2 separate regions of the Homo sapiens genome follow, and region 2 is linked to region 1. A link means that fine-mapping ties the variant in region 1 to the expression of a gene that starts in the linked region. Tissue or cell type: spinal cord. Region 1 holds a variant in brackets; the other region holds the start of a gene. All regions are shown on one strand. Distances are from middle to middle.

Region 1 (2,692 bases):
TGAGAAGCTGCCGCCTCTGCCAAGCATGTGCCTTAGCAAGGAGCCACACACACACAAGACATGATGCTATTTTTAAGGATCTAAAGTAGGTGCCTGGCTGCTTGGCTGCCTTTGGTGTATAGACAGTACCTGAATCTTGGTGCAGTGTTTCATTTTGTCCTCTTGCGGAATTGTGTTTGTGACGACAACAGCCTCAAAGGCGGCATTATTTATTCTGGAAATAGCTGGTCCAGAGAAGATCCCATGGGTAAGGATAGCATACACTTTGGTGGCTCCAGCTGACAGCAGCCTGTAGAACAGCAGAAGATAAAAATTAAGGGTATGCAAATATTCTTGGAATACTCTCCCCTAGTATGAATGGTAAAAGCACAAAGTGTGCTCCGTAAAAGAAAAATGCAACAAATTTCACTCACATTTATTAACCTAAGATAGGATCACTCAAGCATGAGCAAAACACTTTGTATTCCATTAAATCGGGGACTATCAACCTTGGCACTTGAGCCAGGATAATTCTTTGTCACGGGGGCTGTCCTACGCATTATGGGAAAATTCAACAGCATCCCTGGCCTCTACCCACTAACGACAACCCACCCCTCAGCCGTGACAACAAAAAATGTCTCTAGACATTGCCACATGTCTCCCAGGGAGCAAAATCACTCCTGGTTGAGAACCACCTGTTTAAACCAATATAGCCAAACATCATTGTTTTGATGTGTAATCAACATAAAAACATATATGTAAATGAGATATATATTCATTGTTTCATATTAAGTCTCCAAAACCTAGTGGCCTTTTTATACTCTCAGCACATCTCAAGTCAGACTGGCCATATTCCAAGAGCTCCACGGCCACGTGTGGCTGGGTGGGGGCTTCCATACTGGGCAGCAGCTCTACAAATCCTCCAGACACCCATGTGGCTGAGAAGGCTGGCACGAAAGCCAAATGGAAGGAAGCTAGGGCCTGAAGAAGCCCGAAAAACCATCTTTCCTGTCGTGCTCAGTGCAAAGGGAAGCACCTTCTTTGACCTTTTTCCAGGTACACTACAAGCTCACCCTGGAAAACGAAAAGGCCCGTGCTTTCTTTTCTACCAGAGAAAGAA[G/A]TATAAAGATAAAAGGGCCTAGAATCTCCTTTGGTCTAAAACTCCACTGCCAAGACCGGCAATAATCAGGAAAAAAGAGCCCAATTTCTAAAAGCTGATGTGTTTCCCTTTCCTAGTGAGAAGTCCTAACGCTTTCCCCACCGCCCTGCGTACTTGTCCGCAGCATGGCAGATGGTGCCGCAAGTGTCAGCCATGTCATCCACGAGGATGGCCACACGGTCCTTCACGTCGCCCACCAGGACCATCCGGTCCACTTCATTCGCCTTCTTCCTCTCTTTGTGGATCAAAGCAAATTCCACATTCAACCTGTCTGCAATTGATGTAACCCTGGCAAAGGCACAAATGAACATGTTCATACAGTCAACTAGAGATCTCGCCTTTAAAGTTGTATTTTGGGAATGTAGCAGGCAACCACACCCGAGAGATGATGCAAGAATCAGGCCTCTCTTGATCAGCCCAGGCATGGTCTGGGGCAGGCACTTAGCAATCCACAGGGAGAAATGTGCTAATGGCGGACCTTGCAATTGGGGCAGCTAGGAATGACCGTCAGGGCACCCTGGCCACTGGATAGAACTACTGGGTAAGAATTTGATATTCAGTTTGTTAGTATTTGTGGGTAGCATTTTAAAACCATGACAGGTACAACTTAAAGTAAGTTATTTAGGAACTACTATTTGCCCAGTTTGTGGCACAGATAGTGGGGACAAAAGTCCTGGTTAATACAGCCATCTAATATGTAGGCTAGTCAGGATGGGCTTCATTGCATTCAAGGTCTAAGGAGACTTTAAACTGTGAGTCCAGCTCCTCTGCTCATCTAAGGCAAATGCTCAGACATCAATGGTGCCAGGCATGGCATCGTGCCTGTAGGCCCAGCTACTCAGGAGTCGCAGGTAGAAGGATGGCTTGCGTCTGAGTTCGAATACAGCCTGGACAACATAGCAAGATCCCATCTCTTTAAAAAAAAAAATCACTAGCTCAGGAGGAGCTGAGCTGCCAACAGGAAGAGAAAGTGGGCAGGCCTCGCTTGCTGGTGAGCCTGGGGCATTTCAGATTTTCCTGTGAAGAGTGGATTTAAATGGTGAAACTTATTTCAAGACAATGCCACAGGTATAATGTAACATTAAGATTTTCCTTTTCCAGTTTTTAAAATAACAGTCATTATGCAATTTAGCTGAAAAAATGCTTTGGGGACCAATACACACATGGCCCAACTTAAGACGCAGTACATGGAGGATATAACCTCCACACACTAGTTTTAAAGTCCTAGTCCTACTCATTGTGTCATCCTCAGATGACGACCAGGAATGGAGCTCCTCGCGTGCTCTGATGAAGGACAGAGGGGACACTCTCTGGGGCTGAGAAGGCAGTGGGAAGGGCAGTTAGGTGCTCCAGGCTCCCCTCCCTATTTCTGAGGATTTTCACAACACAACCAGTGTTTCTTTTCTTTTCTTTTTTTTTTTTTTTTTTGAGACAGTTTCACTCTTGTTGACCAGGCTGGAGTGCAATGGCACAATCTCGGCTCACTGCAACCTCTGCCTCCTGGGTTCAAGTGATTCTCCTGCCTCGGCCTCCTGAGTAGCTGGGGTGATAGGC
Region 2 (2,692 bases), 520 kb before region 1:
TCTTTGACAGATACCTCCAAAAATCCCATGGCCAATAATGTGGTGATGAGCAATATGATAAAATAGCAAGATACCTGCATATATGTCTATCAGTACAAGTGTTAAATACACATTATCTCAAAAGAAAAATACATTAAAAACTCATGGTTCCTGTTAGTAGTAGGGATAATTTAATTTTTAAACTGCATACATGCCATAAACAAGGTTTATGTAACGGCCTTGAAAACACCATTCATTACTTACATGACTGAAAAGACGAAGGCATCTAATGAGTTAGAGTCACACCATCTCATGCCTGTATACTATCAAACAACTTTTGGGAAGCCTGAAAAAGACAAACACAGTAACACTGTGTTAGAGGGACCATACTTGCTTACCTAAAAATCTGAAGAACAGGTGGTCTGTAGTGTGGTAAGACCCAATTTATCACTGACCTGGTTACTACCAAGAACACATAAATGACCACTGTTAGGTTCACTATGATTTCATGACTATGGGTACCTGAAGAAACACATTCAATGATGAATGTGTTTAATGAAACACGCTGTTTTACCTGCAAAAAAGGACGGGGCACCTGCAACTTGTATCAGTCATTTTCCTCATTAGAGGAACCACCAACACTACCTCGATCTTAGTAGAACTTTGAGATCAACACTAATGTTAGAGATACCATCATCGCTTGACTTAGAAATCTCATTGTTCATACTATAATGTGGAAGAGTAGGATAACTCACCTGGATACCGGCATAGCCCTCCTTAGAGACTAATGTTAAACACACATTATATCTCTTTTATTTTTTTAAGAGACAGGGTTTTGTCCTGTTACCCAAGTTGGAGTGCAGTGGTGTGATCACAGCTCACTTCAGCCTCAACCTCCTGGGCTCAAGTGATCCTCCCGCCTCAGCCTCCAGAGTAGCTCATACTATAGGCACATGCAACTATGCCCAGCTTGGTTAGATACTACACATTATATCTAAACTGTAAAATAATAAGGGCTAATGCTTACTAGCCTTGGTTGGGAAAACATCATTTCTTAACTGAATGCCTGCAAAAAAACCATGGTAACACAAAAGTTAGAAGCACCATCCACACTTAATTATAGATCTGATGATCAGATTGTTTTCTGAGTGCTTGCTTAAGGCCCACGTCATTACTTACCTGGATGCAAGCAAAGTCTCATTCTTGATCATGATGAGGTTTACCATGTCTTCTTGACAGGATCCTAAAAACACATTATGACAAATGTGTGTAGACACAGCTTTTTTCCTTGAACCCCACAATTAAGCTTATTCACTACCATCATTCCAAGAACCATCAAGTATACCTGGAATCTTGCAGTACTGCAAGGTCTATAGCACTGTTACAGATACCATTTTCTCTCTACTACTTACCTGCAAACAAACCCACAATTGCTACTATGACATGCAACTCCATGGTTAATTCCTTGGATAGCAAATAGCTCGCCAATCACAAAGTTAAACATAAATTTTCTCTAAAATATAAAACAGCAGGATAACATGGTTGCTGTAGTTAGTAAAGACTATCATTTCTTACTTGAGTACCTATGGAAAAAAATCACACAGTAAAAAAGTTTAGGTAAATGTATAACACTTACTTAGATATATGAAGATCTGGCCGGGCGTGGTGGTGCACGCCTGTAATTCCAGCACTTTGGGAGGCCAAGGTGGGTGGACTGCTTGAAGCCAGGAGTTCGAGACCAGCTTGGCCAACGTGCCAAAACCCCATCTCTCAAAATACAAAAATCAGCAGGATGTGGTGGTGCACACCTGTAATCCCAGCTATTCAGGATGCAGAGGCACGAGAATCGCTTGAACCTGGGAGGTGGAGGCTGCAGTGAGCCGAGATCACCCCACTGCACTCCAGCCTGGGTGACAAAGCGAGACTCTGTCAAAAAAAAAAAAAAAAAAGATATAAGAAGATCTGATGGTCTATGATGTGGTTAAAGAACACATCATCACTTGCCTGCATACCAGAAATGTCTGCCATACCAACCATTGTTAGGTTTATCAGGGTCTCACTACAGAAACCTGAAATACACATTGTGAAATATGTGTTAAAGGACACAAACATTTCCACCAAGACATCTGAAAATAACCTTCGTCACTCCATCATTACAGAACACATAAACTCTACCTGGATACTTGTAATAATGCAAGATCAATACCACTGTCAGGTAAGACGGTCATTTCTTGACAGGACACCTGTAAAAATCCCCTGGTTACTGCTGTGGTAAGAAACACCAATAACCAGGATAGGCACTATCACTCAAAACTCAGAGGTTAATCATAAAGTTATTCTAAAATATAAAAAGTGAGAAAAATAATGTTTTTTTAAATTGGTAAGAGCTCTATCATTTCTTACTTGAACAGCTACAACAAAATCATAGTAACAGAAGTGTTAGGGACACCACCACTTACCTATATAAGGGAAGATCAGATGGGCTGGGCTGTGTTTTAGGCCCACATTATCATGCACATCCATACGAGCAATGACCCCTGTTAACTATTACTGATAGGCTCACTGTGACCTCTTCAAATGAACCTAAAAAATATACTGTTGAAAATGTGTTTCCTAAATGTCTCATTCTACCTGTACACCTGCAAATTCCCTTCGTCTCTTTCATCATTTCAGGGCCTATCAAAGGTAACTGGATGCTTGCATAATGCCAAGG

What was found. PIP is the estimated chance that this variant, and not a neighbour inherited with it, causes the effect.
Region 2: it holds the start of LINC01203, and the variant in region 1 is the best candidate, but not a certain one, in a credible set for the expression of LINC01203 in spinal cord (GTEx, PIP 0.60).

The regions. Positions count from the first base shown.
Region 1 is chrX:12,818,241-12,820,932 of GRCh38, reverse strand. It overlaps PRPS2 (phosphoribosyl pyrophosphate synthetase 2), which reads right to left. Exons shown (of 7, transcript NM_002765.5): 5 at 1,253-1,426; 6 at 130-289. Among named protein-coding and RNA genes, the nearest start is that of PRPS2, 28 kb to the right of the region's middle. RefSeq lists an enhancer at 1-1,126. The variant G/A (reference allele first, on the strand shown) is at 1,100.
Region 2 is chrX:13,334,012-13,336,703 of GRCh38, reverse strand. It overlaps LINC01203 (long intergenic non-protein coding RNA 1203), which reads right to left and starts at 1,463. Exons shown (of 7, transcript NR_045260.1): 1 at 1,392-1,463; 2 at 1,159-1,222; 3 at 1,007-1,045; 4 at 244-325.